Linked DNA regions of Homo sapiens. The protein of the gene in region 1 purifies or fractionates together with the protein of each later gene. This does not show direct contact. Each region holds a gene or a part of one and is shown on either strand. Other genes may lie near its edges.

Evidence for each region.
Region 2: the proteins of RNF34 (region 1) and UNC119B purify together in Homo sapiens (affinity purification with mass spectrometry; 2 studies listed by BioGRID and IntAct, with this or other methods). This does not show direct contact.
Region 3: the proteins of RNF34 (region 1) and TSR3 purify together in Homo sapiens (affinity purification with mass spectrometry; 2 studies listed by BioGRID and IntAct, with this or other methods). This does not show direct contact.

What each region holds. Positions count from the first base shown.
Region 1 is NC_000012.12:121,417,118-121,420,717, reverse strand, and holds part of RNF34 (E3 ubiquitin-protein ligase RNF34), read right to left. Parts: intron 3,215-3,600; coding exon 2,807-3,214; intron 477-2,806; coding exon 384-476; intron 142-383; coding exon 1-141. UniProt on the Homo sapiens protein: E3 ubiquitin-protein ligase that regulates several biological processes through the ubiquitin-mediated proteasomal degradation of various target proteins.
Region 2 is NC_000012.12:120,713,236-120,717,057, forward strand, and holds part of UNC119B (protein unc-119 homolog B), read left to right. Parts: intron 1-38; coding exon 39-152; intron 153-3,392; coding exon 3,393-3,504; intron 3,505-3,634; coding exon 3,635-3,807; intron 3,808-3,822. UniProt on the Homo sapiens protein: Myristoyl-binding protein that acts as a cargo adapter: specifically binds the myristoyl moiety of a subset of N-terminally myristoylated proteins and is required for their localization.
Region 3 is NC_000016.10:1,349,599-1,353,420, forward strand, and holds the start of TSR3 (18S rRNA aminocarboxypropyltransferase), read right to left. Parts: upstream 2,281-3,822; 5' UTR 2,207-2,280; coding exon 2,095-2,206; intron 2,001-2,094; coding exon 1,781-2,000; intron 1,403-1,780; coding exon 1,209-1,402; intron 637-1,208; coding exon 460-636; intron 355-459; coding exon 291-354; intron 11-290; coding exon 1-10. Other genes in the region: GNPTG (N-acetylglucosamine-1-phosphotransferase subunit gamma precursor), read left to right, coding at 2,368-2,419, 2,504-2,561, 2,641-2,708. UniProt on the Homo sapiens protein: Aminocarboxypropyltransferase that catalyzes the aminocarboxypropyl transfer on pseudouridine at position 1248 (Psi1248) in 18S rRNA.

The DNA.
Region 1 (3,600 bases):
TTTTTCACAACAGCCAGAATAGTTGACAAAATTCCGAGCCAGAATTTCCTTCAGCTGGCGCACGCTCATTCCTTCCACATCATCAAGGCTTGACAAGTCAGACAGTGAAGCTCTCACTCTCTCCTTGGAGAGCCCGGGGTTCTGAAACCACAGAGCATCCATTAGCCCTGGTCCCATAAGTCCAGACCCTCCCCACTCTAAACTCATCACTGGCCCTGAATATTCTCCCAGCCATCTCAGCAGTCCTAGAAGTGTTTCAGTATACTGTCCTACATTCAAACCAGAAGAAACATCCTGTACTAATCTAGCGAATGTCCACAGGGCACTGTCCCTTCCTGTCAGGCTGACATGTCAGGGAAACCAAATTTTATAGGTGGCCTCACCCGATCCTCTGCGTTTTCTTCTTCATCATCATCATCCTCATCATCGTCGTCATCATCATCTTCTGTGTTTGCTGAAGTGATTTCACTTTGTACCTACACTTATACAACGTATCTGATTAGGTCAGGAATCAATCTGTATTTATCACTAGAGAAAACCTTGTCATTGATGCTCCCCATGATGACCAGAAAGCCAGCATAATGCACATCTTTGGATTCAGAATGCTGCTGACCCTTCCAAAAAGTTGGGCCCTACAAAATTGCATGAAGAACCTACCTTCCATAAAGTTAGCTCAAAACACAAATTCCTGTGTGTGTGTAAAGTTATAAAATCTAACCAGAGTATTAACTCTCTCAGGAAGGTCCCATAATGGAATGCCAAAGCCATTAAGGATATGGGACAGCACTGTGTCATTATCAAAGTACCTGCAAATGGCTAGTTTAACTGGAGCCTGTAAGATGCAGACAGAAAAAAGCTAAAGCTCTGATGGGTCAGCCCAAGCATCAGGGGCATCTGATTTGAAAGATCTCAGTCCTACCACAGCGTACTTAGACAATCTAATTCCAACGAAGGCTTTCTAGACTTCACTGATGGCTGAGGCTAATTCTAGTTTTTAAAATTTCTCAATCAGAACACTTTAGAAAACACAAATCTCTTCAGTTTGGGTTATGTACCTTCCTTCACATATTTTCTTTTGACTATATTTGACAATAGCTCTCCAATAAGCTAGGTCGGTTCCCAATTTCAAATATTCCACCCTGATTGCCAGGCACCATACTGTAGCATCCAACAATCCACATCACCCAAATGGTGGTGTATACCCAAAAGGGGTATGTAAGTCAGCTGTGCCTTATGTTTGCAGCATAAATATGCCAATTCTCATTTGGGAGAATAATAAAACTCCTGGCTTGGACTTATCTAATTTACGACTACAGTATGTGTTGCTTGACGACTAGGAGACGTTCTGAGTAATGTGTCCTTAGGCGATTTTGTCATTGTGCGAACATCACAGTGTACTTCCACAAACCTAGATGGCACAGCCTGCTACACACCTAGGCTATAGGGCATGGCCGGCTACGAAGCCGTACATCACGTTAGTGTACTGAATACTGTAGGCAGCTATAACACAGTAATAAGTATTTGTGTATCTAAACATATCTAAACACAAAAAAGGTACAATAAAAATATGGTATTATAATCTTACAGAACCACTGCCGTGTATGTGGTCTATCACTGACCAAAACATTATTAGAGGACACAGGACTATATCTAGAAGGCAATTAGACCAAATTTCCCTCTGCATTTATTCATTTACTAATTAAAAGACACTCTTGGCCAGGCGCGGTTGGCTCATGCCTGTAATCTTAGCACTTAGGCCAAGGCAGGTAGATAACCTGAGGTCAGGTATTCGAGACCAGCCTGACCAACATGGTGAAACCCCATCTTTACTAAAAATACAAAAATTAACTGGGGTGTAATCCTAGCTACTCGGAAGGCTGAGGCAGGAGAATTGCTTGAACCCAGCGGGGCAGAGGTTGCAGTGAACTAAGATCTCGCCACTTCACTCTAGCCTGGGCAACAGAGTGAGACTCTGCCTCCAAACAAAAAAAAAAGTCTTGCTATGTTGCCCAGGCTGGGGGTACAGTGGCTATTCACAGTTGCAATCATGGTACACCTGCAGCCTCGTACTCCTGAACTAAAGCAATCCTCTTGCCTCAGCCTGCCAAGTATCAGACTGCAGGCTCACACCACCGCATCCAGCTTTCCTCTACTTTTAATAACCCCCTTCTTCAGAGAAGAAAATTAAGCGTGAAAAAATTTGTTCAAAACATTTCTTTCAGCAGTTTAGAATCACTCACGTACAAGTAAATATTAATTACAAGCCTTTACATGTTATTCAATCAGGATGTCCAAGGACCTCACTGGGACAATATTATTAATTACAATTAGTAAATAACTACATTTTTTCACTAATTCAGATGGCTCTTTCATTAACTAAATTAGAACAATTTCACTGTAGCAAGACAAATGGGCATTAGGCTAACTTACACTACTGATTGTTTTCTGTGGTCACTGAAACACGTGCACTAACACATAACACTACAAATGTGTATGTGCTACTTTTTCACAGCCATTTCTTCAACAGTTAGTGTCTAACTGTGTAAGACAGAGAAATTAACTAAGGCCAAGAGACTGATGAGCTATTTTGGGACCCTTCAGACAGCAGACTTTGGAGCCACCTAGCACCTCAGCAGACACTATACATCAGGACAGCCTTTAAGTGCAGAGTTCAGCTGGGTGTGGAAGCTTCACTCCAGCACATGACTTGAAGTTTATCAGAAGTCATCAAGCACTAAAGGCCCCACCATATACGGCCAAGAATAAGCGTGCCGGGCCCTGGGTGTAATTAGTTACCCCCTCGTACCTGTGCCGGCACTCCAGATCTGGATGTTTGGTCTCCATCCATAAGCTCTCCCTGAAACGAAGACATAGTAGCAGAGGGGGCTGTATAGTTTGAAAAAAACGAACGTGTAAAAAAGCTAGAAGTCTGGGACCTTGAAGAATTCAGACTGCTTGTGTCCATGTCGTCCTCAGAGCCTAGTCCATGATGGCACAGTACTAGATCCACCAAGTCTTCTTTCTCACGACAAGTATCTATGGGTATATTTCTCAGAATGAGATACTGCCGCAGGTCCTTCACCTTCAGTCGCATTAACTGAGGGCGCTGAAATGCTGTCTCTTGTAATAAGTGACAAGTAGAACATCTACGGAGATTTTCTTGTAAGACTGAACAAACGGAGCAAAAATCCTTCTTGCAGTCACAGCAAACATGCTGAAGAAAGAAAAGCATTTGATGACAGCAAGATATAAACCATTATGAAAGCATGAGTTTTCTTTCTGCCTTCTACTAAAATTTAATTTTAGTTCTTAGTGAAGTCCCCAGTGGCACCAGACTATTTCCAGAGGTATTTTCATGTTTCAAAAGCCATGAAAATCAAAATATTCATTGCCAAGGCAGTCTGGATTCACAGAAGTTCTAATATAGGACTTTAAGAAAAACACACTCTTGTGTTAATGAATTAAAACCTTTCCACCCCTTGGTATAAACATGTAATTAACAAAACAGAGCTTGAACCACACAGAGCAGAAAGCAGAATCACACTTCCTGGTCTTTTCCTACATGAACAATTTCCTCCATTTAAAGAGCAGGAGACAAAA
Region 2 (3,822 bases), 700 kb from region 1:
ATTATTTAACAGTGTTGGTTTCTCTCTCTTGTTTTCAGATTATTTATGTAAACCCGAAGACAACATCTACAGTATTGATTTCACCCGCTTCAAAATTCGAGATTTGGAGACAGGGACAGTACTTTTTGAGATTGCCAAACCTTGCGTTTCAGGTAGGCCTCTACGTTGTGGTGACCACTAGACAGTTTTGAGCCAAAGGTCTTTGAAACTCAAATCTTTGTGTGCCACTGCATCCTGTTTCTTGGACTCCAGTGTGTCCCACTTCTGTGACCTCTTCCCGTGGCCTGGTCTGCCAGGCATGGTGGTTTGAAGCTGCGTTCAGAGGCTGATGTTTGTTGGATGTCTATTCTGTGCTGGTCACTGTGTTCCACGTCTTTGTGCACATCAGTGTATGTAATCCTCACACCTCTTTGAGGAATTACTGTTATCTCTGTTTTACAGCGAAGGATCTGAGGCCTACAATTCCCAGGCGGCTCTTTCCTAAGGCCCTGTGCTGGTTCATCTTACCATGTTGCCTCCAGTTGGGAAAGGAATCCTTGAAATTAAACTATAATGAGGAAAACTCACCTGAGCCTGGTGCCCTCTTGGAGGGTGATAGGGAGGATCCTGGTCCAGACATGAGGCAGTTTGAGCCATCTTCTTGCTCTCTTTTACATATTGCCTTGGAGTTCCCAGACCTAGTTTGGATTTTAATCTCAACCATTTTCTGGAAGAACAGACCCAGGAACTCAACTACTTGGGGTTCCTTAAATTAGCCTCCCATAGCCGCTTCCTGTGCTTGTGATAAAGTGCCAGGCTGATCTGGACCACAGAAGCCTTTGGAGCACCTCACTGGAGGTTTAGCGCCCCCTGGAGTTAGTCATTTGTTAGAACACTGGTACAGATACCCATAGTATCAGTGTGGTTTGTAAACTTACTTTGCAGTGTTTCTCATCTGATTTGCTACTTAGAGCCTGCAAATTTGATAAGGCCCCGATTTCACCCCTACCTGGTGGTATTTATGCTATCATAATCTCATACTGACCAAGGCACCTAAAGGCTCAAGTTCATGGGTAATTTTGTTGTTGTTGTTTTGTGGGTTTTTTTTTTGTGTTGTTTGTTTTGAGACACAGTCTTGGTCTGTCACCCAGGCTGGCGTGCAGTGGCACAATCTTGGCTCACTGCAACCTCTGCCTCCTGGGTTCAAGAGCTTCTCCTGCCTCAGCCTCCCAAGTAGCTGAGATTACAGGTGCCCACCACCATGCCTAGCTAATTTCTGTATTTTTAATAGAGACGGGATTTCACCATGTTGGTCAGGCTGGTGTCAGACGCCTGACCTTTGATTCGCCTGCCTTGGTCTCCCAAAGTGCTGGGATTACAAGCGTGAGCCACCGCGCCTGGTTGCTTATGGGTAGTTTTTTATTGGGATGGTCAGATCAAGACCAGCTAGCTTCCTGGGTCTGTGGTGTTCTCATCTCTAAGCCACATATCACAGTACCTGGGACATTGCAAGGACTCCAGGCCTACTACAGGTATGTGGATTTGGATTAGACTCAAGAGTTGTCATTTCAATATAAGACGGAACTGTTTCAAGAAGGTCAGCTGAAGATACTGTAAAGTATCTTGGTTTTCAGTCTCTCTAGTTTTTACATTTAAGGATCTTGATTCACTTGTAATATTCCCCACATTGAGGCTGGGTGCGGTGGATCACACCTGTAATTCTAGCACTTCGGGAGGCTGAGGCAGGCAGATCACTTGAGCCCCAGGAGTTTGAGACCAGCCTGGGCAACATGGCAAAACCCCATCTGTACAAAAAATACAAAAAAATTAGCCAGGCGTGGTGGCACATGCCTGTGGTCCCAGCTACTCAGGAGGCTGAGGTGGAAGGATGGCTTGAGCCTGGGAGATCAAGGCTGCAGTGAGCCGTGATCACTGCATTGCACTCCAGCAAAGGTGACAGAGTGAGACCCTATCTCAAAATAAATCAATAAATATAAACAACAGATTATCCTCACACTGAATCACTACCTTTCTGCAGCACTTGTTCTGATGAATTTGAATCCCCAAGATTTGCTGTCTCTCTGAGTCACATTGTTGGAGCCAGGGTTTTAGAGTCTCTGGGGGTGAACCCCTACTCAGCCTGGTTGCCCAGTCGCTCTTGGGCTTGTCAAAAGCAGAGATGTTTGATGCTGAAAAAGTCTTCTCTTATGTTGTACTCATGTACAGCTTAGACCTGGAGAAAATATCCTCACTGGACACTGGAGGGTACTAACTCCTATTCACATTAGAATGCTTGTTCTCTGATTCTTTTTTTTTTTTTTTTTTTTTTTTTTTTTGAGACGGAGTTTCACTCTTGTTGCCCAGGCTGGAGTGCAATGGCACAATCTCGGCTCACTACAACCTCCGCCTCCCGGGTTCAAGCAATTCTCCTGCCTCAGCCTTCCGAGTAGCTGGGATTACAGGCATGCGCCACCACGCTGGGCTAATTTTGTATTTTTAGTAGAGACAGGGTTTCTCCATGTTGGTCAGGCTGGTCTTGAACTCCTGACCTCAGGGGATCCGCCTACCTCGGCCTCCAAAAGTGCTGGGATTACAGGCATGAGCCACCGTGCCCAGCCCTCTGATTCATTTTACAAATCTTTCATCTCCTGGGTTCAGGAATGGACTAGACCGGAGACCAGCATTAACCTTGTAGAGGCCACCACATCTGCTTCACCCTTTCCCAGGTGGTCAAAGGGTTAGGCCTGGTATGGCCTAGAAGTAAACATCAGTCAAGGAACTATAGTATCCCAAGGCTGTAGGTCAATGTCTTCTATTTAAATAACAAAATTATTTTTAGTGGTTTATCTTTGCAGCCTGTCAGAAATTTTTATATTCATTGAAATAACTTTCTGATAAGTGTCAACTTTTGTAGCCTCATTCTTTTAGGTTGGTGCTAGCGCTTCAACTTGGTTAACTGCAGACCTAGTCTGAATAGAATAGACCATGTCAGAGGCCCAGTTCCCAGCTTGTGTTTCAGGTTTCACCCTTAGGATATGGCATAAGCTCTCAAACTATTAAAAAAGGCTAATAGCTTAGTGTTGAAGAACAGGCCTTGAGTCAGATGGACCTGGATTCAAATCCCTGTTCCCTCCTCTTACTGTTTGAGGGACTTTGGACATGTTACCTGACTTCTCTGAACTTGAGCTTCCTGATCTGTAAAATAGAGACAGTAACACCTCGAAGGGTTGTTGTAAGGAGTCTGGACTATGGCAAGTGTCCTGCTATATAGCAAGTGCGCAGTAAACACTGGCCATTCTTCTTGTTGGTGTGGTTACTGGGATTGGTTGCCATTGTGCTGTTGGGACTGGTGATAGAACTCTTGGATTGAGAATGTCGAGATGGTGCACTGAAGATTCTGTGTGCTCTTTCAGACCAGGAGGAGGATGAGGAGGAGGGAGGTGGAGACGTGGACATCAGCGCAGGACGTTTTGTCCGCTATCAGTTCACACCGGCATTTCTCCGCCTCCGGACAGTCGGGGCTACGTGAGTACCATTACTACCTGAGGGGAGAACATTCTGTTTGTTCACAGAGAAGAGTGTTTTCGGTTGGGTTTTGGGTTGGCTTTAGAGGAGGGAGGAGGCAAAGTCGGGCTTACAGAGATTTATTTTCCAGGGTGGAGTTCACAGTGGGAGACAAACCTGTTTCAAACTTCCGGATGATCGAACGGCACTATTTCCGGGAACACTTGCTGAAAAACTTTGACTTTGATTTTGGCTTCTGCATCCCCAGCAGTAGGAACACTTGTGAACATATCTATGAGTTTCCCCAGCTTTCGGAGGATGTCAGTATGTATCCCCTGA
Region 3 (3,822 bases), on another chromosome or scaffold:
CGAGGGCAGCCTGGGAGAGGAGGGGGAGCACGTTCCCAAATGACGTCCTCCCTGGCTAGCTGGAGTCAACGTCATCCACAAAAAGCCCCCAGCCGAGGACAGATTCCTCTTCCTCCCTGTGCTCTCCACACCCAAACCTCTCCAGTGGGACATGCACTGCAGGTTTTCTAGTCAGAAGACCATCGGGGTGTTGTTTACAACACCACCCCCAGGCAGCAGGAAGGGCTCAGGCCAGAGGTAGAAGAGAGCCCTGGGTCTGAGTGATCATGAAATTAAGCCCAAGGACCTACCGGGTGCTGGCCACAGGCCTGTTGGGGTTTCCAAACTCTCTCCCTGAATCCACATCGAAGGGATCTGAGCCGAGAGAGGAAAGTGGCCTCTAAGTGAGCTCAGAGCAGGACCAGGCCTCCCACCCCCCAGGCTTTGGAGGGCCTTGGTTCCCACCCCGCCAAGGCTCACCGATCTCCTCCTCCTGGGGGCTCTCCTTGGCATTGGCCAAGAACTCCTGCTCCGCCTGCAGCACCTCCTCCGGGCTGCCGCAGGCCGCGTACTTGTCCAGGAGCTGGCGGTTCAGGTCCAAGAAGCCCTTGCCCCATTTAAACTTCCGCAGCAAAATGACAGCAAGGTCTGGAAAGCCTGACGGTGTGAGAAACAGGAAACCCAAAGAAGTCGACGGTCCCCTCAAGTGCCTCCTGATCACCCTGCTGCCGGATGGCGGCGCTCTCCCAAGTAACCGCAGGGTCCCCAGCAAACATCAGCTCACAGTCCTGAGAACCCGTGCTGCCCCCAGCCTGCACCTCCCTTGCTACAGTCCACACCTCTGCAACCGACCAAGTCCCCCTCCTTTGCTGCGAAACAAACATTCCCACCAAGACTGCCCCACGCCTCATCAGGGCCTCTTTAGATCAGCAATTCAGTAAGGAGGACGTGGAGGATAAGGAGGATTCTCTGGGCAGTGGTGCCCTGATAATGAATGGCACCCCACACACCGGCCCTGATAGAACAGCGATCCCATTCTGCCTCTACTGCAACTCCACAGGCCGAAAACCTGAAGTGACAGTTGGGGCTGGAACCGTGGTCTGTCTGAACTGTTCCCCTGTCCGTCCCTTATGCTCCTCCTGGGGTCTGTCGGCAGGAAACATGATGCTGGGAGCATAGCAGGAACAGCAGGCCGCCGGGTCACACTGCTGTGGGGCCCCTGGACTCACCTACGATGCAGAAGGTGGCAGCAAACGCTTCCACGCAGGAAAGTCTGTAGGGCCGGCCATAGTTCACGGGGTTGGCGGCCACCAGGTAGGGCAACAGGCGCAAGTGGCTCCCTCGCATCTTCCCAAACGGTGTCTCGTCCAGCCTGGCCCAGGAGCAGTCGATGACGGCGACCCCAGACTGCGCCACCAGCTGTCTGCCAGGGACAGCATGGGATAAGTTCAGGAGCCAGCACTACCCAAGGTGGAGCATGCCCCGGAGAATGGCCTAGCTAAGGGATTCAGGGACATCATTCCGCCATCCCCAAACACCCTCAAACGGACTTCACGAGCAAGCTTTTGAGGCAGCTGCTTGGGGCACCTGGAGCATGTGTTTATTCACTCAACAAACGTTTATTACCCCAAAACCTCCTTTATCCCAGGCTCTGCGCTACGCAACGGAGGCAAACTAGACAGACGTTCCCTGCCCACGTGGGTGTGGATGTGGGTGCGACATACAAGTGCCACTAAACCATCCCTGAAGGGAACCACGCGCTGGAAATGAAGACGACCTCGGGCAGGCCTCCCGCGCCTACCTGTCTGCGGGGGACGCGTACTGCTTGCCCACGGGGCTCAGCACCAGACCGCCGAATCTGTGGCCCAGGCGCAGGCAGCGCACCAGCCCCAGGCGGGCCAGCTTGCGGCCCGTGCAGCGCCGGGGGTCGCAGTGGCCCAACTCCCACATGGCCAGCGTGCAGGGCAGCGCCGCCGGGCCCGGGCCGCCCTCGCCGTCAGCCGCCCCTGGCTCCACGGAAGCTGCACGAGAGAGAGAAGGGCACTCGGCCTCAGCGTGGGACCCCCGGGCAGGCCCTCAAACCCTGACCCGCTCTCCCCATCACGCCTCGCTCACCCTGCAGCGCGGCGCCGACCTCCTCGGCGAAGGCCTCCAGGGAGCGCGTCGGGAGGTGCCGAGGGCGGCCGCCTTCCGCCCCCGGCCCGCGCGCTGCCCTCCTGCGGCCCATGGCGCGGACCTGGGGTGCCGGGGACTCCCCACCCCACGGCCGCGCCCCTCGGCCTCCCAATGGGCTGTGCGGCTGCCAGCGCTTGCGCCGGACGCCACTTCCGGTCCCCGTGGTCACGTGACCGTCACTTCACGTGACCGCGCGGCGGCCGCTGCGGCGCGATGGCGGCGGGGCTGGCGCGGCTCCTGTTGCTCCTCGGGCTCTCGGCCGGCGGTGAGTGGCCCGGCCGTCCGCGTCCCCAGGCCCCGCGCGCGCTCTGCACCCCGGCCTCCCCGCTCACGGTCTCGCTCCCCGTAGGGCCCGCGCCGGCAGGTGCAGCGAAGATGAAGGTGGTGGAGGAGCCCAACGCGTTTGGGTGAGCAGCCTCGCGGGCTGGCGGCTCGAGCGGGGGACGGCCCGGGCCCGTTCCCCGCTGACCTTGCCGCTTCCCGTAGGGTGAACAACCCGTTCTTGCCTCAGGCCAGTCGCCTCCAGGCCAAGAGGGATCCTTCACCCGTGTCTGGTGAGTGAGGAGCGCTGTTGGCCGGCGCGGGGGTGGCCGCGGGGAGCAGCAACAGTGGAGGATGGATGAGTGACCCTGAGAGTTACGGCCCGGAGTCTAAAGCATTGGTTTGTCAGCCTTCTAAAATTAATGTGGAAGTACGAGAGAATATACCAGAACGTTCTTGTAGCGAATTAAATTATCTCCAGACTTAGTCCTTCCTTTCCTTTCCGAGAGGTAACTGCTGTTAATAGTCTGGTGACTTTGCAGACGCGTTTCTGTGCTTTTACGTGCGTGTCTATGCAACTGGAAAACGTATAGTTTTTGTAATCTAATCGCTTTTTTAAAAAATCATGCTGCGCGAGTATTTGGCTGATTTGTCGTTGTCACTCGCTGTATCTCTCGGGACGCTTCATGGTGATGATATAGGTCTTCGTTCTTTCTCTTGGTGCTCAGCACGCGATAGGATGGCACTGCACTCCCCGATTGTATTTAGGTTCTTGCCATTTTTTTGGCCATTAGAAATAGTTCTGTGGAGAACATGCTGTGTAGGTGCTTTGGTTTGCCCTCAGGTGAGCGGTTTCCCAGTGCAGGATTCCAGAAGTGGAATTGGTGGGTCATGAGTATATATATCATTTAAACGCTGAATGAGTATTAAATATAATAGACAAAAATCCAAGAATTTTTTTTTTTTTTTTTTTGAGACAAGAGTCTCGCTCTGTCGCCCAGGCTGGAGTGCAGTGGCACGATCTCGGCTCACTGCAACCTCCGCCTCCCAGGTTCAAGCGATCCTCATGCCTCAGCCTCCCGAGTAGCTGGGATCACAGGCATGCATCACCATCACGCCCAGCAAATTTTTGTATTTTTAGTAGAGATAGGGTTTATTTCACCGTATTGACCAGGCGGGTCTCGAACTCCTGACCTCAAGTGATCCGCCCATCTCGGCCTCCAAAAGTGCTGGGATTATAGGCGTGAGCCACCGCGCCCAGCTTTAGTAATTTTATTATCGAATACCTTTATGTGTTAGGGTCTGTGCTGGGGTTGCAGAAACGAACACAGATATACCAATGCTTGTCCTCATGGAGCTGACAGTCTAATGGGGAGGGATGGAGGAACAGGCACTGAGCCTGTAGAA